3 linked regions of the Homo sapiens genome follow. The protein of the gene in region 3 interacts with the protein of the main gene of each other region in a biochemical or structural test. Each region holds a gene or a part of one and is shown on either strand. Other genes may lie near its edges.

The links.
Region 1: the proteins of RECQL4 (region 3) and MARCHF5 form a complex in vitro, tested with the Homo sapiens proteins (one study listed by BioGRID).
Region 2: the proteins of RECQL4 (region 3) and MCM10 form a complex in vitro, tested with the Homo sapiens proteins (one study listed by BioGRID).

The regions. Positions count from the first base shown.
Region 1 is NC_000010.11:92,350,126-92,354,464, forward strand, and holds the end of MARCHF5 (E3 ubiquitin-protein ligase MARCHF5), read left to right. Parts: intron 1-965; coding exon 966-1,082; 3' UTR 1,083-3,839; downstream 3,840-4,339. UniProt on the Homo sapiens protein: Mitochondrial E3 ubiquitin-protein ligase that plays a crucial role in the control of mitochondrial morphology by acting as a positive regulator of mitochondrial fission and as an important regulator of immune response.
Region 2 is NC_000010.11:13,156,957-13,164,557, reverse strand, and holds the start of MCM10 (protein MCM10 homolog), read right to left. Parts: upstream 3,001-7,601; 5' UTR 2,952-3,000; exon of another isoform or gene 2,333-2,951; intron 431-2,332; 5' UTR 356-430; coding exon 349-355; intron 1-348. UniProt on the Homo sapiens protein: Acts as a replication initiation factor that brings together the MCM2-7 helicase and the DNA polymerase alpha/primase complex in order to initiate DNA replication. Additionally, plays a role in preventing DNA damage during replication.
Region 3 is NC_000008.11:144,514,834-144,522,746, reverse strand, and holds the start of RECQL4 (ATP-dependent DNA helicase Q4), read left to right. Parts: upstream 1-4,913; 5' UTR 4,914-4,962; coding exon 4,963-5,046; exon of another isoform or gene 5,047-5,111; coding exon 5,112-5,145; intron 5,146-5,238; coding exon 5,239-5,333; intron 5,334-5,556; coding exon 5,557-5,697; intron 5,698-5,982; coding exon 5,983-6,759; intron 6,760-6,856; coding exon 6,857-6,983; intron 6,984-7,289; coding exon 7,290-7,421; intron 7,422-7,504; coding exon 7,505-7,597; intron 7,598-7,674; coding exon 7,675-7,811; intron 7,812-7,913. Other genes in the region: LRRC24 (leucine-rich repeat-containing protein 24 precursor), read left to right, coding at 1-272; LRRC14 (leucine-rich repeat-containing protein 14), read right to left, coding at 1,269-1,836, 1,925-2,509, 2,693-3,021. UniProt on the Homo sapiens protein: An ATP-dependent DNA helicase which unwinds dsDNA with a 3'-overhang in a 3'-5' direction. Does not unwind more than 18 bp of dsDNA. May modulate chromosome segregation. The N-terminal domain (residues 1-54) binds DNA Y-shaped DNA better than ss- or dsDNA.

The DNA of each region.
Region 1 (4,339 bases), on a different chromosome or scaffold from region 3:
ACCACCTGGTTCAAATCCCATCACAGAAATTGTCTTGCTGTGAAATCTAAATCAAATGTCTGGACTTTTTGTTCCTGTAGTATGGTGATGGTAATAATCAGGATTATTGTGAGGATTGTATAAGTACTAGCACATAGTAAGCACTCATGTTGTTTGCTATTATTGTTACTCCCACTTCTCCCCTCTGGTGGCATGTAACCTGCACGGACCTTGGAGGACTGAACAAAGGGGGCAAACGTGGGAATAAAAGACAAAGACAAGAGAGTATATTTGGAAGAAGGGGTCAGGGGGCACCTTGCCTCTAGTGGACAAGGGCCCTGAGCTTTACACAGCCCTCTGTATTTATTAGGCAAAAGAGATAGTGAGAAGCAGGGGTGATTGTCGGGTAATTGTCAGTCCATTTGGCAGTTTGGTTCACAGCAGGCTTGCGAGACTGCATCATTTGAACAGTAGGCGCTAGATTTCCCAGTAGATAAGTTCAAGGAGCCCTGCACCAGGGAGTGATGGCCCCCAGCAAACCCTTTGGTGGCAGGCTCAGTGTGAGTTTACTCACATCCTGCATTCATGATAAACAGTTTGCTGTTTGGTCATATAGCCTCCAGTGGAATGCTGAGTTGGTCACGATCCCTTTGGCCTTTCTTGCTCCCAACAGTGGCAGTCTGCACATAGTGCCCTAGCATTCTTCTTTGTATATCAGAGTATATGTAGAACTACATGGAAGAAAGACTAGTCAGAAAGGATAATGGAGAAGGCATCTGTGTCCCCTGTTACCTGTAGTAACAGCGTATAGTCTGTCTCTCTCCCTATCTCATCTCCTAGTAGAAAAAGAAAACTGTTTCATTTGCAGTCATCTGAATTAGTTTAGCATCAAAGCCTACGTCTTTTGTGATCTAAATAAAATTATTTTTATTACTCTGTTTCTCTAAATCTGCATTATAAAAAGCTAATTTTCCTTTTTATTTTAGGGTGGAATTGCGTTTGTTGCCATAAAAGGAGCATTTAAAGTTTACTTCAAACAGCAGCAATATTTACGACAGGCACACCGCAAAATTCTGAATTATCCAGAACAAGAAGAAGCATAAAACTGACTTCTGGTTGTTCTGCAGTTCTCTCATCCTTATGAATCTGTTGTGTTGTTTTGATTCCATCATTAATGCACTTGTGGAGACTTGTGATAAGCTGCTGCTCCTATATTTTTTAAGAAATATAATAAAGCACTTAGGGCAGGGGAAATCATCTCGGTAATCATGGAACCTAAGGATGTGATTTGTTTTCATTGTTTGTATGTACTACTTTTATGGCAGTCATATGAACCATTATCTTAGCATGGTAAACCTGGGTTTTGTTCATATTTTCTCCAGACAGAAATGCAAAGATCAAACTGTGCAAATATTAAAAAAATGCACATGCTGTTTTATTCAAATGCCTCTTTTGTACATGTTCATGTTTAGTGTTTTCTCAGAATCAGCAACTCAAGGTACTATGAGGATTTTTCTCACTGACATAATTTGATTACATACTAAATAAGAGGATATGTTAATATGAGGAAATGTAAATTAAATTAGTTATAAATAAATAACCAAAAATGTATGTAAACATTCAAATGATTATCTGAACAAATGAGATTTTGTGGTGTTTTCTTTAACCCATGTGATGTCCTCCAAAATGTGTAGGGTAAAAATTCACAGGGCTTCCAGATCACTTTTTCAATATTAAATTTTATTTACATAATGTTGACATCTCATACTTCATGAAGTAATTTTGACTCATGCAGTCGTGTGTGTGTGTGTGTGTGTGTGTGTGTGTGTGTGTGTATTTGTGTGTTTCAGTGTTTCATCAGGTCCTTCCATCTCTGGGAGTTTTTTCAACCCATATTTCTAGAAATTACAGCTGCCAGTTTATAGTAGTTTGAGCAGAGGATGATTTGCAAAAATAAAAATAAAGTTATTTTACTCTCCTCTTGCATTGATTCAGTTATTGAGATATTCGTTGATCACCTCCTATTTCCCAGGCACTGTGCAGAGTGCTGTAGGACATAGTGGTGAACAAGACAGACTTGGTCCAAGCTCTTACAGAGTTGACAGTCTAGTTTCAGCACATAGAAAACCAGCAGTGAATAAACCAAGGTGAGGCCTTGAGCTCTTTGTTTTTATATTAATGAGGAGAAAAGTATGAAAACAAGAAGTCTTAAGTAAATATTGAGGTCATTGTTTTTGGCTTAAGTTTATTATAGAAAATCAACACTAATGTTTTTAGATTTTAATTGTCCTATTGATGAGGCTAGCACCTTAATCACTGTTTAGTTTTGTATTCATTTTTAAAAGCAATTATTGAAGCCATTTTCAATAGATTGGCCATTTTAATGTTCAGCAACCTGAATGGTTATTTTTGTTAATTAAAATTAAATTTTTAAGAGATATTTTCAAAACCCTATTTATTTTCTTGTTCACAGTAATGCATGTCAATAATAAATGTTTCCCCTTACTGATAAGCGGCCACTTTAGGAGTGTAGCAAATATAGATTGAGCTATGTTAGTTTGCAATAATATATGTTAACTTTAGTAATTAAAGACTGGTTTCTATAGTATGAATGTCTTAATTTTGAGTTATATGATGTTTATTTGAATGACTGTTGAACATTCAAATTTGTATTATTTGGAGATGAAGATTTGACTAACAGTGAGCCTTATTAAGAACACTACTACAGTTCTGAAGGGGAAATATAACATCTATGGTTATATATTTTAAAAACTTAGATTATAGGCTGTAATTATAAAATATATTGGCTTTTGTTTTCAATGTGAAAGATACATTAAATGGACACATATCTTGCAAAATTTTGTTGTATAGAACAGTTTTTAGGCAGCCTTTACTAAAGTTATGCAAACACACAGTTCCCCATTTACTACATTAATGCCCTTGACAGGGAGTAGCTGCTTGGTTTTATAGGTATTAGGGCTCATGAAGGCCGGGGAACAACTCTAATCCTTTTGGGGCAGGAGGGAGGGTTTTTTTAGGGTTGCGGGGAGGGAACTGCAAGTGCCTGAGGACCAGAGTGGCCTCTAGCCCCGAATTGAACACTTTTAAACCTAAAGAGCCTTATTATTATTAGCTCGAGAAATACCACATGCCAGTCTTCCCAGGAAGGTGACCTGCCTGACCATGAAGCAACAAAAGAGCATAGGCAGACTTAAAGTTGGATAGACCTGGGTTCAAATCATAGTTCAGCTTTCAATAACTGTATGTATGATTTTGGCTAAAGGATTTGACTTTCTCTCAACTGCAGTTTTCTTAATCTTTGAAATGCAAATAATGTTTATCTCAGAAGACTATTTCTAGGATTAACTGAGAGATTAAAGGAACAGCAGCACTTAGGCTCAAAATCGCCCCTACAAAGCAGTAGTTGTTTCTTAATTGCTAAGTAATCTGTTTGCACTCTAGGAAAAGTAAATGGAGAGGTAAAAGAAAGGCATTGGGGACAAATGAAAGAGATGATGTAGATTTTTCGGATGGGTGGGTATATTTTATTTTCCAGTTTATTTTCATATTTCTTTACTGTGTTATTTCTGGAAACTTTAATGTTTTAAACCTCTTTTATAAAATTCAATGACGACTACTAGAATTCTTTTCAAAAGTTAACTTATCTCCAAAGTGGCTGAAAATATTGTTTACCATTACATGATTATGAAATGACTGTGAAGAATATAAAATTAAACTTAGTGACTTAATTAGTCACTGCCTTGCTAACTTTGCTGTAATTTTTTTAAACGTCTTGTTTTTAATATAGCAAACTATCTCAATACTGGCTGGATTAGGTTAAATAAAGAATTTTTATGTTCTCTAGGTGTACTTTGTTAAATCTCAAAACATTCTGTACATACATAATTTTTTTTAATCACAGTTATCGAGATACTAGTTTTTGTAAGTAAAAGTAATCTGAATTTAAAAAAAAAACTGTATGGAAGAATTTGTCCTAATTTTGTAAACAGGCTAGCCTATATTCTAAGTATGTTCTAATGACTAAACTACATCCCCACTCACCCACCCTCAAAGCCTCTTGCACTGAGTATAATTAAGCAACTAGACAAGATCTGTGGGTGGTCTCATGCCATGATGTCTTAAAGTGTATTCGAGTGAGTTGGGAACACAAACTGCTTCTGAGATATTAAGAACTTAAATTTCTGAAGTAGAAGATTAGAATCCTCTAGAATGAGTTAAAGGTCTTTTCCTTGCATCCATTTGGGGATTATATTGGTTTTAAGTCATTTCATTACCCCATCTGAGAGACAGATGCTAAGAGGAGAAAGGGCATAGAATTGAACAGTCCTGGATGCATATG
Region 2 (7,601 bases), on a different chromosome or scaffold from region 3:
GTGACAAGTTACTAAACATCCCTGTTTTTCTGCCTATAAAATACGTTTGCCTGAGGACTGAATCAGTTAATTTCCACAAGGATCTTGGAGCAGTGCCTGGCCCACTGTACACCTACCAGCTATTGTAATTATGAAAGACAATCTCTGTTGCCAGAAGAAATCTCCCCTGATAAAAGCAAGTAACATTCAGTGACCTCTGTGAGATGTGAGATTGCTTCAGAACCACTAAGACAATACCTGAGGGCTGGGGAGCATTTTCACCATTTTACAGGTAGAATAAATAACAAGTCCATGGACAAAAGGTTAGTTTTCCTTGAAACAGAGTAACAGAAAACTGCCAGGTCTTACCATCCATGCTGTCAAGAGGACAGTTGTGACAGGAAACTTCGAAGGAGGCTCAGATGCCCAGATGAGCAATGTAGAATCTTGGCTGTGTGAAAGCAATATTAGAAATGTCACTTTCAATTCTTCTCTTTCTCTCACAACACACATCCAACAAACCCAGAATCCTACCACTCCTATGGGCTCTAACCTCAGAATTCATCCAGAATCTGACCATTTCTCACCTCCTCTCTCCACACCGCCAATGCCATCTCCTTCCTTGGATGTAGCAGCTCACTTTTACTTGTGTTTAAGGTTACAGAAAGTTATTGAGCTGCAGAGCAGTTTGTAAATCACACTAGATTACGTGGATGAGATAAATTATGAGGAAGAACTATTGGGGTTGGCTAGGTACAGTGGCTCAACGCCTGTAATACCAGCACTTTGGGAAGCTAAGGTGGGCGCATCACTTGAGGCCAGAAGTTTGAGACCAGCCTGGTCACATAGCAAGACCTTGTCTTTTTTAAAAATTACACACACACACACACAAATTATTGGGGTCGATCTACATTAGGCTATTCTTTCATTTTATTCACTGTAATACACCTGACATCTGCGTTATCCACGACAGCTTACTGTATGATTCTACTTAGGTGGAGCCTTAGTGACAATCAGGATTTTGATTCAATACTAGTCAGCAAAGCACAGAGAAACAGCGTAGCTAATTAAGACAAAGTTGTATCACTTTGTGCACTTCTCTTTTCATTTAAGGTTATTTTTTAAACTGCAAGTAAGAAAGTATACATTTTTCTAGGCTCTTATTTAACTTACATGTGCTCTTTGGCAAGTTCAATGTCAAGGAACTAATTACAGTGATTATGGTACTTTCTTTTCTTTTTTTAGACAGGATCTCGCTCTGTCGCTGGGGCTGGAGTGCAGTGGTGCTATTGGCTCACTACAACCTCCGCCTCCCAGGCTCCAGTGATTCTCCTGCCCCAGCCTCCCAAGTAGCTGGGATTACAAACGTGCACTACCACACCCGGCTAATTTTTGTGTTTTTTGTAGAGACAGGGTTTCGCCATGTTGCCCAGGCTGGTCTTGAACTCCTGATGTCAAGTGATCCATCAGCCTTGGACTCCCAAAGGTGCTTTTTTTTTTTTTTGAGACGGAGTCTCTGTCACCCAGGCTGGAGTGCAATGGGGCGATCTTGGCTCACTGCAAGCTCCGCCTCCCGGGTTCACGCCATTCTCCTGCCTCAGCCTCCCGAGTAGCTGGGACTACAGGCGCCCGCCACCACGCCCGGCTAATTTTTTGTATTTTTAGTAGAGATGGGGTTTCACCGTATTAGCCAGGATGGTCTCGATCTCCTGACCTGGTGATCCGTCCGCCTTGGCCTCCCAAAGCGCTGGGATTACAGGCGTGAGCCACCGCGCCTGGCCGCTTTTTAAAAATTCATTCAACCAACATTTCCACGGATCCCTCATGTGCCACACACTGTGCTATCTACTGGGGAACCTATTGGACAGTAAGCTTCCTGAGCGTTAGGAGCAAACTGTCTCGTTCAAGTCTGTAACCGGCCTTGCCTTCCCCCAAAATGAAACTGTGCACCCTCCCTCGCCCTCAAATCCACGGCCACTGACAAGTACTGTGGTCCCATCTCCAAAACACTGCTCAAATCTGCCACTTCTCTCCAACTTCACTGCCAGAACCCTAGGCCAAGCCACCGTCAACCTTTAACCCAATGACTGTGTTAGCTTTCTATGTTGGTCTCTTTGTCCCCGTGCAATCTGTTCTGCATACGACAGCCACGGTAATCTTCCCTTTCCTTAGTAACCTTTAGGAACATAAATCAGATCATGGGGGTCCCTTCATTGAAATTCTTTAATGATTTTCCATTGCCCTTAGAAAAAATCTACAAAGCCTGCGAGGCAATGATTCATATTCTCTCTCTCTTTCCAAGCTTTCTACTCCCTCACATTTTCCACAATCCACCACGTCCAATTCTACCCACCCCGACACCCATAACGATGCTCCAGCCGGGCCAGCCCGCTTCCACCTTCTGGAACACACTAAGCTGCTTTGAGGTCTCAGGCTCTGTCGAAGAAAGCTCCCCCCAGGTCCTTCTCGCCCTTCGGTCTCCACTTACTCATCTTTCTGAGACTTTCTGGACCACCCTGAGTCGTCCACTGTCGTGCATTTGTTTACTACCTGCTCGTGCCTTTAAACTGTAAGCGCTGTGAAGGCAGCGGAAATGTGATCCGAGCCATGCACACCGTCCGCATTCAATAATCATTGGCAAATCATGAATACGAGAAACCAATGAATGAATGAATGAATGAATGAATAAAAGAAAGCCCAGGCGGCAGGCACTTGGCAAGCACTTAAAAGGCTGCGTTTAAAAGGAAGAACCCGATTCCTTAGTAGACGGCCAGCAACTCCCAGCCCCCGGCCCGGCCATGCCAGCTCCGAGCGGTCCCAAGCTGCCGCCAAATCCAGATCGCGCCCACCCGAGCTCCCGGGACCCCGCGCCTCTAGCCTCGGACCCCTTGCAACCCGCGCAGAGACGTGCGAGGCGGCCCCGGCCCCGCCGCCCGAGGGTCACACGCACGCCCGGGGCCCGCGCTCCTCACCCGATGCCGGGACGCCTTCTTCGTTCACAGCTGAACCCGCCAAAATTCCAACCGGATCCCGCCCCTGCCTTGACGTCAGACGCACGCGGCTGTGGGGCAGCACTGACTGGCTACGCCAGCGAATCCCGGCCCTGGCACAGAGCAATCGGATTGGTTTACGTCATTGGACGCCCTCTTTGTTGGGGGCAAGGGACCTTCCTGTCGGTAGAAGCCAGTCTCCTTTAGGTAAAATAGAGTGTCTGGCGCCCCCTGGTGCCGGGAAGTTTAAGTCATCCCACCCAGTATTTTCCCTGCGGTCCCATCCCACCTCAACTCCTGACGCTCTGGGACCGACTGTTCCTTTGTCAGCCTTATGTCCATTCGAAATGTTTGGGCTCAGGACCAAACAGATCCGGTCCACTTTTACCCTGTCTGACCTTGGGGAAGTGACTTATCTCTCTGAGTTTCCCCTTCACCATCTGTGCAGTGAGGGAAAGGGTAGATGACATCTTTTACACTGAAACCACCATTTCCCGAGTAATTCCTGTTCCATAGATTTTGGGACTTCTAAGGGGCGTCAGGGCTGAAGAGAACTTATCAGCAGACCATATCTTTCACAGATTTTTTTTTCAGTAAAATTCAGGCCTCTTTATGTATTTACATTCTAAAAAATAGTGTTTGTACATAATACTAAGAACATAGTTTCTAAATGCAGAATAACATTTAGCTTTTACATAATTTCAAGGGATTGATAGCAGAAGAGACTTTGATGGACCAAATGGCCACTTTAAGTCTTTCCCCCCTTTTCCTCCTTGCAGACACTGTTCAGGCACTGCAGTTCCCCCACTAATAATCCCTTTGGTATAAGATCCTATCTCTATCCACTACGTACTTTCATTTTCAGAACAATTAAAATCGACTTTAGGAAGACTGAAGATAAACAGTCCTGATGCCATCTACGTTGACTTTTTTCTGTGTCCTAATGGAATATTACTGCTCCATTTATGAGCTCAGCCCTATTACTTAAACCTATATTGGCTCAGGAATAGGAATACAACCATTTCTGAGAGCTGCTAGTGTTAAAAATTCATAGTAATGGAGGAACTCTAGTAATCAAATTGAAAAAGTATGTTTAAATGCGTACTTTTAAACATACGGCACTAAGGCCGGGCACGGTGGCTCACCCCTGTAATCCCAGCACTTTGGGAGGCCGAGGTGGGTGGATCACGAGGTTAGGAGTTCGAGACCAGCCTGGCCAACATGGTGAAACCCCATCTCTACTAAAAACACACACAACACAAAAATTAGCTGGGCGTAGTGGTGCGCGTCTGTAATCCCAGCTACTTGGGAGGCTGAGGCGGAGAATCGCTTGAACCTGGGAGGTGGCGATTGCAGTGATGAGCCGAGATCTCGCCACTGCACTCCAGCCTGGCGACAGAGCCAGACTCTGTCTAAATAAATAAATAAATAAATAAATAAATAAATAAATAAATGCATCACTACATCTAGTTATTAAAAAAAAAAGATTCGTCATAGATTTATTCTTAGCCATTATGCAGAAATTCCTTGACTAATTCTGATCAGTACTCTGAAGTTCTTTTCTTCACCTTCACTTTCCAGGTCCTCTTTGCATCCAGTTCCGGGCAAGGAGTCAGAAACAGAACCAACCTAAGCCCGCAAACCTTCCTTAAGTGAAGAATCAAGCACTTTTTATTGGAATTAGTATAGTGGTGACTTTGAGAAAAGAAGTGGAGGTGATTTTGAGAAACAATTAGGCAAATAGATTTTTTAAAATCCATTGAATGTGGCTTTTCCGTGCCGATAGCGCTCACACAAACATTACGAAGTTTCCTAAAACCCGCCAGACTTTCTATAAGAAGTGTGGCAAGCACCAACCCCACAAAGTGACACTGTACACGAAGGAGAAGGATTCTCTGTATGCCCAGGGAAAGCGGCGTTATGACAGGAAGCAGAGTGGCTATCGTGGGCAAATTAAGCCGATTTTCCAGGAAAGGGCTAAAACTACAGAAAATTGTGCCAAGGCTTGAGTGCGTTGAGCCCAGCTGCAGCTCTAAGAGAGTGCTGGCTATTAAAATATGCTAGCATTTTGAACTGGGAGGAGGTAAGAAGAGAAACGGCCAAGTGATCCAGTTCTAAGTGTCATGTTTTCTTTTATTATGAAGACAATAAAATCTTGAGTTTATATTTTTAAAACATCCATTGAATGTGGAGATATTAGCGAGAAGGAAGCAGAGAGGGGATGGGGAGACAGGTTTAGGATGACTGTTAGGTTTCTGATTTATACAATAGGGTCGTTTTTGAGGTTGTGCACTGAAGTAGGAGACATAGGAAGAACGGAACAGGTTTAGGGGAGAAGATAGATTTAGTTTTCTATTTCAGAATGAGATGTATGAGAGATGCTGATTAAGAAAGGCACGGTAGCCAGCTTGATCTCCAGATCTGGGGTTCTAAGGAGAGGCCTGGACTCTCCTTAGAATACAAACGAAGGCCAAAAAAGAACAGCTCTGACAGTTATCAACATCTATCTAAAATGAAATCTAAAGCAAACAGCCCATATTGCAGTGGTCCTTAACCTTTTTTGGGCGGTAGGAGGATGTTTATCACAGACCCCTTTAATGTATTAAAAGTGGGCCGGGCACGGTGGCTCATGTCTGTAATCCCAGGACTTTGGGAGGCCGAAGCTGGCAGATCACCTGAGGTCAGGAGTTCGAGACCAGTCTGGCCAACATGGTGAAACCTCATCTCTACTAAAAAAAATGCAAAAATGAACCGGAAGTATTGGCGCATGCTTGTAATCCCAGCTACGCGGGAGGCTGAGGCAGTAGAATCGCTTGAACCCGGAAGACGGAGGTTGCAGTGGGCCGAGATCGGCCACTGCACTCCAGCCTAGGCAACAAGAGCAAAACTCCGCCTCAAAAAAACAAAAAACAAAAAAAAACACAAAAAGTCCAAGCCGAGCCCTTCCTGCTCCCTCTAGGAATCAAAATGGCGGCGAGGGAAAACTGGAGCAGTCCCGGAGCCTGAGCCACTGACAGGAGAGGAGAGGGCGGCGGCGGCGGTGGGAGGAGGATGGCGGCGGTGTGCTGGCGCCGGTGCCTGCCGCGGTGCTGGTGGCGGAGGCGGCGGGGGCGACGGCCGAGGTCCCTGCGGCAGCAGCAGCAGCGGCGGCGGGAGGAGCCTCCAGGTCGATTGAACTGTGGATGAGGAACCTACGGAATACGAAGGGCAGACTGTATAGTAAACACTTGAGGATGCTTGCTGTGTGGTTCTTACAGAATGCACTGTCCGTGTGTCTGGCTGCCCACAGCCTTTCATACTTCAATAGTATGCACTAAAGTAAGGTCTAATGGCCCTGTTCTCATAGAAATAGATGGAAAGAGGCTGCTGGATCCAGGGTTGAAGGTTCCTAATGGCCTCTAGGATTATACTCTGAAGAACCCGCAGACGGAATGCCTGAATGACTGAAGAAAATGGGTGCTAATGCATCTCATTATCCTCATCCATGTTCCGCGAAGGTAGGGGGAAATTCACAGGCCCAACAGACTTTTATAGGGACGTCATCCTATTCTCAGCAAGGCTATGGTTGTGAATCAAAATTGTATAGCCTTGACCATGGCCATGAGAAACCACAAGACAAAAAAAAGAGGCCGGGCACGGTGGCTCACGCCTGTAATCCCAGCACTTTGGGAGGCCGAGACGGGCGGATCACGACGTCAGGAGATCGAGACCATCCTGGCTAATATGGTGAAACCCTGTCTCTACTAAAAAATACAAAAAATTAGCCGGGCGTGGTGGCGGGCGCCTGTAGTCCCAGCTACTCGGGAGGCTGAGGCAGGAGAATGGCGGGAACCTGGGAGGCAGAGCTTGCAGTGAGCCGAGATCGAGCCACTGCACTCCAGCCTGGGCGACAAAGCCAGACTGTCTCAAAAAAAAAAAAAAAAAAAAAAAAAAAAAAAGACCTCTGGCCCTGCTACCTTCAAAAAGAACTTAATTAAGCCTCGAAAATCTGATAGGTCTGCCGATCATGCCAAGCAGATGCGAGAACTCCTCTCTGGGTGGGATATTAGAGATGTCAATGCATTAGCGGAGGAATATGAGGGAAGGTCAGCATTAAAGAAGCTTTCCCTACAAGCCAGTTTGGCTAGACCGGAAGCCCGGACATTGCAGAAAGATATGGCTGATCTTTATGAGTACAAGTATCGTACTGATACAGATTTCATATTTCAAGAAACTTGTTATCCTGTTCATCGTGCCATTTTGGCAGCAAGGTGTCCATTTTTTAAATGCTTTCTTCCTCACCTGAGTATGGGGCAGAGATAATAATGGACATCAATACAGCTGGTATTGATATGCCCATGTTTTCTGCTTTGTTATACTATCTTTATACAGGAGAGTTTGGAATGGAAGACTCAGGGTTTCAAAATGTCGTTATCCTTGTTCAGCTTAGTGAAGAATTCCCTTGATGTAGATATGCGTGGACTCTTTGATTACATGTGTTATTACGATGTCGTCCTTAGCTTTTCTTCAGACTCTGAACTGGTTGAAGCTTTTGGTGGACATCAGAACTGTTTAGATGAAGAGCTCAAAGCCCACAAGGCTGTTATTTCTGCACGGTCCCCATTTTTTCAAAATTTATTACAAAGGAGAATA
Region 3 (7,913 bases):
TGATCTGTCGCCGGCGCCGCAGGCGAAAAAAGGCGCGGGGGCCTCCGGGGGAGGGAGCGCTGTTCGTCAACGACTACTTGGACGGCCCCTGTACGTTCGCACAGCTAGAGGAGCTCCGCGACGAGCGCGGCCACGAGATGTTCGTCATCAACCGCTCCAAGCCGCTCTTCGCCGAGGGTCCGGCGGAGGCGCCCGCTGACTGCGGCCCGGAACAGGGGGCGGGGCCGGGACTCCGCGTGCCCCCGCCGGTCGCCTACGAGATCCACTGCTAGGGCCGCGGGCGCGCGGATGACGTGGGCGCCGGAGATTGGCCGGTGCGGCCTCGCGCATGCTCCGTCAGTAAAGGTGGAAGCCGCGCAGTGTGCGCTGAGCCGTGTGTGGGGCGCGAGCCGGGAACGTTGCACTCGGGAATCCTGGGGTAGCAATGGAAGGTGGCCGGGGAGGCCCCAACACCTCCCTTGAAGCTCTTCCGAAAAGACATCACCCCAACCTCCAGCTCTGCATGGGGGGGGTCCCTCGCTGGCCCTGGCCGGCCACAGTAGGATCTTGGGCCTCCGAAAGGTGGGAAGAGCAAGGACTGGCCGGCAGTGCCGACGGGGCTGCCCCGCGAAGGGCGGGGCGACAGGCTGGATGGCAGTTGTTGCCGGGTGGCCATGTTGGGGGTGACAGCAGAGATAAGGATAAGGGTGACCAACGTGGACAGAAAAAAAAACAGCCACAAATTCAACTTCCAGGCACATGTGTACCTTGATGACCCCCTCCAGCCCGAGCCCAGCCCAGTGGGGTGGCTGGGTGGCAGGGTAGGGAACACGTAAGAGGCGTGAGTGCCTGGGGACTCCCAGCTTCCCTGAAGCAGGCCTCTGTCCAACTTCAACCCCAGAAGCACTGAGCTCTCAGTAAAGGGAGAGGAAAGGCCCAGAGAGGCCATCATCTCTCTCAGCTCACAACTGGAATCCCAAAGCATTTGCACAAAGGACCAGGACCCCAGACGGCAGCCAAATGCAGCCAAACTGAGCAGGGCAATGGAGGCCTGACATCCAGCCCCGGGGCCCACAGATGATCAGCCAATTATGGAGCAAGTGCAGGGAAAACCGCGTGGGGCACTGCAGAAAGCAGGGGAGGCTTGAGGTGTGCCCAGAAGCAAGGTAGACCCAGCAGGAAACCAGTAACCAGTGCTTTTGTGAAGGCCTCCACCAGGGGTCCCAGCAAAGGCCCTGCCTACCTAAAGAGACTGCAGGGCGGCCTGTGTCTCACCCAGAGCTACTTCATCATAGGCTGAAGTAGTCCGCAGCCAGTCGCCCGTAGATGTCCGTGGTCCAGAGCACATGGGCACGGCCTGAGGCTAGAAGCAGCTGGTGCAACTCAGCTTCTACGCGGGCAAACTTCTCCTCATTGATGGAGGCCTCCAGCAGGACAGAGGCAGGCGGCGGCCAGGGCAAGCCCTCATAGCAGTCCACAGGGAAGGGGTGCACCACAGTACGCAGCTCAGCCTGTGCCACTGAGTCCCGCAGCAGCTCCTTGAGGCCCGCCATGGACAGTGGGTTGCCATAGAGGCCAAGGTACCGGAGACTGGCGCACTGAGTCAGGATGGGTAGTGTGGCCAACAGCTGGGTGTCTGCGAGCTGACACTCAGTCAGCTCCAGATGCAACAGTGTGGCTGCTGATGCCTGCAACAGACCCTGGAAGGGTGCCAGCTGGCTGCCAGACAGGTCGTTACCACTCAGGTCCAACTTCTTGAGGTGGGCAGCATGTGGGCTCCGTGCCAGGAAGCGTAGGTCCTCAGGCAGCAGAGCACAGAAGGCCAACTCCAGGCTCTCCAGGGGGCTCTGCAGGGTGCTACAGGGGACACAGGGGTCACAGACAGGCAGAGCCAGGGAGGGTCCCTACAGAAGGGAGGGGCAGGGCAGTGGTGGGGCCCGCTCACCTGAGCAGCTGGTCCAGCCTCCCTGAAAGGAGAGAGGAGCCCATGCTGAGCTCACGCAGACAGGTGAAGCGGCCCATCTGGGCAAGGAAGTAGCGGAAGTTGTCCTCGCCATCCACGGAGGGCTGCCTTGAATCCCCATGCACATAGTGGAGCCGCAGGCTGGCCAGGTGCTGGAAGCGGGCCACGTGTGGGATGATCACAGACAGGCCGCGCAGGCCCAGATTGTTGAAGCGCAGGTCCACGCGGCGCAGGCAGCCTGCATCCAGAAGCTGCAGCAGGGCCACAGTGTTGCGCATGGGCAGGTCCTCAGCTCGCAGGTCCCGGCAGCAGAGCCGCAGCGGGCTGCCCACGCTGCTTCGGAGTGCCTCCCGCAGGAACGCATAGGAGGCCCGGTTCACCCGCAGGTCCACGCGCACCTCCACGGGGATGGGGGCTGGCCCAGGCTCTGCGGCCCCACCCTGCTGCTGGGCAATGCATGTGCGAGCTACGGCAGCAGTACAGTCCCACATGCTCATGGTGCCAGGATCCTGTTCCACACCATCATCCAAGAGGCCCGTCATGTCCAGCACCCGCAGCGCATGCTTCCTGGGAGTAGGAATGGTGTGAGGAAGGGGTGGAGGGGCAGCGCCCATACCCCCTCCCAGCCACCTTGGGACAGGAGCAACGCGCCTGCTCCTGCATGAGCTCTTGCTAACTTTATGACCCAAGCCTCCTCAGGGGACCCACTTACACACCCCTGGCCTGACGACCCTCCAGATAAGTCCATACCTGCAGAGGGGCTGTGTGCTGGCCCCAGGCTCTGAGGTGTGGAGCCGGGCAGTCAGCCCCAGGATAACAGCCTGCATGCTCTCAGTGCTAGGCCGCTCCTGCAGGAGGGCACGGCTGCAGTGGGCACACTCCTGTAGCAGCTGCTGGAAACTGAGCAGCGGGAAGGGCCACGTGTGTACCAACTCGCGCAGTACCACTGTCTTCTTGTCCATGAAGGCCACCTTGAACAGCAGGGGGAAGAGTTCGCGTGGCAGCAAGGGCAGGGCCTGGCAGGCAGCTGGCTGGCACTGCAGCACCTGCCGTGTGCTCAAGAACACAAGCGTGTGCATGGTGCTGGGCCGGGCAGACGGCCACCTGCAGGAGAGGGACTTCAGCAGGGAGGAGAGACCCTAGGCCACTACCAAGCCACACACAAGTGGTAGGAAGGCCCAGCATAGTGCCTGAAACAAAGTCAGCAGTTAGCAGTGGCCATGGCACAGAGAAGCACCTATTAGATGCCTAGCGCTGGGCTGGGTGCAGTGAACTGGCAGACAAACTCACAACTCAGCCCCAGCCCTCCAGATGCACAGGATCTCTTTAGAGAAACTAAGCGTCAAGCAGTGTGGCATCGTCAACAACTCGCTTGCTTGGGTATGCTTTTGACAGATGCCTGTTGCCTTGCAGGGCCCCCCATGGGTACTTCAGGCCTCTCAAATTACAAAGCTGCTTCACAAAACCTTCTTCGAAACCTGAATAAAGCCCAGGACTCTCCCCACCAACCTTCATCAGCATTAGTATTGACGGGACACTCTAAGGAGTCAAGCAGCCAAATCACCTTTCCCTCCCCTCTCCTCACAGATGCTCTCCAGGGCTACACTTGGACTCCACAAAACACCAAAGAGCTGGAAGCACAGAAGCAGCTTCATAAGCAACAAGGCAGGTTGAAAAGACCGAGACCCAGGGAACACCGAGTCCAGATGATGTAGCCTATAAAATACAAGCCCCCGCAAAAGCTACTATTCTCCAGAGCGTCACCAAGCACGGAGACCCCGAAAGAAAGCAACCCTCACCTTTGTTGGCCCTTACCACTGGCCTAAACCTCTCCCTCTTCCCTGGAGAGCCACTGTGGAAAGACCAAGTCTTAAGTATGTGGGATTCAGAAGGTGCAAAGCTACAGACTGCTCAGACAAGGCAAAGAAAGCTGCCTCAGCAGCACCCAAGCTGCAGAGATGCACAAACACTCCCAAGGCCACAAGGTACCTGTGACACAGGGTGCCAGCCCTGCTGCTGCCTGTAGCATCCTCAAAACTAAATCGCAGCCATCTCCCTGTGACAGATTAGAAAATGAAGGCCTCGGCCTGGCCCAAGGTCACAGCCTGAGTGACAAGCCAGGGAAGGGGGCCGGGGAAGACACTCTGGCCCCAAGGCCCTTCTTTTTGTCGACTTTTCCACATACAAGTAAGTCCTTAAGGCACCGGTTCCTGAAAAGTCCCAGACACCAACCCTCGGCCTAGTTCTGCCGGTGGACAGATCTCAACGATCATACTCGCTCTGACAGGACAGACCAACCGAGCACTTGTCACGGGAGAACACCAAAGCAGACGGCCTGCCCACCAAGGGAGGCAGGCACCTCCGTGCGACGCCCCCTCCCCTCCCGCCGGCCGCAGGGAACGCGACGGTCCTCGGTCGCCTGCGTTTCGCGAAGACGCCCCCGCCCGGCTCCTCCGGGCCTCGAGCCGCGGGAGGCGCTGGACCCTCCGCTCTTTCGCCTCCCGAGCGGGGCCTGCTCCTCCAGGTCGGATGCGTCTCCCACCAGGGCCTGACGCCGCTCCGACCGGCCCGGGGACTCCCAGTCCTTCCCGGCCCGCGGTGGCACCTCCCAGGCTCCCGGCCTCGGCCCCGGGCTCCCAAATGCAGCCACTGCCTCCCTCGGCCAGGCCGCCCCGAGCGACCGGTGCCCCGCCCCTTGAGGCCAGGCAGGGCCAGGGGCGTGCGCCGCCCCGCTCAGACACCCCCCCGGCCGCCCGCGCTCACCGGTCCCGCAACCGCAGCCACCGCCTCCAGCCCCGCCTAGACCGTCCGCCGCTCCCCGCCCGGCGCCGCGGCGCCCCGCGATGACGTTGACGCCTCCCATTGGCTGCTTGTCCGAGGCCCGACGGACTGGCTGCCCAGGGGCGGTGGCCCCGCCCCCGGCCCGCCGCGCATCCGCATTGGCTGTCGGCCCCCGCGACGGCTGCGCGGGAGATTCGCTGGACGATCGCAAGCGCGGAGGCCGGGCGGGCGCGCGCGCCATGGAGCGGCTGCGGGACGTGCGGGAGCGGCTGCAGGCGTGGGAGCGCGCGTTCCGACGGCAGCGCGGGCGGCGACCGAGCCAGGTGCGGGCTGCCCAGGGGCCGAGGGGCTGAGGGCGCGGCCCGCGGCTGACGCGTTCCCTTTACAGGACGACGTGGAGGCGGCGCCGGAGGAGACCCGCGGTGAGCGCGCGGCGGGGCGGCGGGGGCGAGAAGACACCGGGTCGGCAGGGGCCCAGGCCCCACCCTGACCCCGCCTCCCGCTCGCCCACGCAGCGCTCTACCGGGAATACCGCACTCTGAAGCGTACCACGGGCCAGGCCGGCGGCGGGCTCCGCAGCTCCGAGTCGCTCCCCGCGGCGGCCGAAGAGGTACCCAGGCCCCGCCGCCCCAGCCTCCTCCCACTTCCCTGTTTGGCGGAGTGGCGGGAGCCACGGAGTCGCGGCCAGGCCGCCGTGGGGCACAGAACTTGGGAGGGGGACTGGGCAAAGTGAAGAAGGGCCGGGCCTCGCTCCAGGTGCGGGAGGGGTGGCTGGGAGCGCTTCTGCCGCCACAACAGCCTTTTCTGGCCTGTGCCCCTGTTGTCTCCTGCAGGCGCCAGAGCCCCGCTGCTGGGGGCCCCATCTGAATCGGGCTGCGACCAAGAGTCCACAGTCTACGCCAGGGCGGAGCCGCCAGGGCTCGGTGCCGGACTACGGGCAGCGGCTCAAGGCCAATCTGAAAGGCACCCTGCAGGTGAGGAGTGGGCAGGCAGTGAGTCCACGCTAGGTCCACAGCTGCTTCCGGTCCGGGTCGCCCTCTTGTCATTTTTTCCACACAGACAGGCACGGGCCCCTGTGCCAACCAGGGCACGAGTCTTCAGGGAGCTTCTCGGGGCCTTCGCCCTTGACTCCCTTTCTAGTCCAGCCTTGTGCTAATTAGCCTGCTCTACAATTGAGCGTGGGGACTCAGGTAGGTTTTAGAGTCTACAGTAGCTCAGGGGCCTGAGTTCCTCCTGCTGTTCTGTTGTTCCCCTCCCAGGCCGGACCAGCCCTGGGCCGCAGACCGTGGCCTCTAGGAAGAGCCTCATCTAAGGCATCCACCCCAAAGCCCCCAGGTACAGGGCCTGTCCCCTCCTTTGCAGAAAAAGTCAGTGATGAGCCTCCACAGCTCCCTGAGCCCCAGCCAAGGCCAGGCCGGCTCCAGCATCTGCAGGCATCCCTGAGCCAGCGGCTGGGCTCCCTAGATCCTGGCTGGTTACAGCGATGTCACAGTGAGGTCCCAGATTTTCTGGGGGCCCCCAAAGCCTGCAGGCCTGATCTAGGCTCAGAGGAATCACAACTTCTGATCCCTGGTGAGTCGGCTGTCCTTGGTCCTGGTGCTGGCTCCCAGGGCCCAGAGGCTTCAGCCTTCCAAGAAGTCAGCATCCGTGTGGGGAGCCCCCAGCCCAGCAGCAGTGGAGGCGAGAAGCGGAGATGGAACGAGGAGCCCTGGGAGAGCCCCGCACAGGTCCAGCAGGAGAGCAGCCAAGCTGGACCCCCATCGGAGGGGGCTGGGGCTGTAGCAGTTGAGGAAGACCCTCCAGGGGAACCTGTACAGGCACAGCCACCTCAGCCCTGCAGCAGCCCATCGAACCCCAGGTACCACGGACTCAGCCCCTCCAGTCAAGCTAGGGCTGGGAAGGCTGAGGGCACAGCCCCCCTGCACATCTTCCCTCGGCTGGCCCGCCATGACAGGGGCAATTACGTACGGCTCAACATGAAGCAGAAACACTACGTGCGGGGCCGGGCACTCCGTAGCAGGCTCCTCCGCAAGCAGGTAAGACAGCGACGGGCCAGGACAGGCATTCCCTTTCCCTCCCCTCAGCCCTCCCGTATTTCCCGCCCAGTGACCCTCCTATGTGGGCACCCCCCAGGCATGGAAGCAGAAGTGGCGGAAGAAAGGGGAGTGTTTTGGGGGTGGTGGTGCCACAGTCACAACCAAGGAGTCTTGTTTCCTGAACGAGCAGTTCGATCACTGGGCAGCCCAGTGTCCCCGGCCAGGTGAGACATCTGCCCTGGAGGGTGGGTCCGGCCAACACTGTGGAGAGGGCGCAGTGCTCTTTTGGGGGACACTTATGTTCCAAGCAACAGGCCTTCCAGGTACCCCTGGTCCAGGCCCTACCCTAGCTCCCCTGAAGGAGGGTGGCAGGGACGACGATGGCTGTCACTCTTTTCTGCTTTGGAAAAAGTAGCCCAGAGGAAGGGCACTGCCTGCTGCCAACCCCCTTTGGGGGAAGGAGAGGTTGTGGCCAGTGGTTGTCTTGCCCGACCTGGAGCTCCCATTCTACCCTCTCCTGCCTGCCCCAGCAAGTGAGGAAGACACAGATGCTGTTGGGCCTGAGCCACTGGTTCCTTCACCACAACCTGTACCTGAGGTGCCCAGCCTGGACCCCACCGTGCTGCCACTCTACTCCCTGGGGCCCTCAGGGCAGTTGGCAGGTGAGCAGTCAGCTTCTGGCCCAGAGCCTTCACTGAGGGGTTGGGGTGACTCAAGTCATGGTGATCAACATCTGTGTCTGCAGAGACGCCGGCTGAGGTGTTCCAGGCCCTGGAGCAGCTGGGGCACCAAGCCTTTCGCCCTGGGCAGGAGCGTGCAGTCATGCGGATCCTGTCTGGTGAGCGTGGCTGCCAGGGCTGAGGCTGGGCTGAGGCCAGGCTGCAGAACCCTGCTGCTGACTCCCGCCCCATCCAGGCATCTCCACGCTGCTGGTGCTGCCTACAGGTGCCGGCAAGTCCCTGTGCTACCAGCTCCCAGCGCTGCTCTACAGCCGGCGCAGCCCCTGCCTCACGTTGGTCGTCTCTCCCCTGCTGTCACTCATGGATGACCAGGTGTGCACACAGGGCCCTGGGCACACGTACACAGCCAAGAACCAGCACTTGTGACTCCCAAGGGCAACTGCTGCTTGTCCCCTAACCACCCCCTCCCCTGGG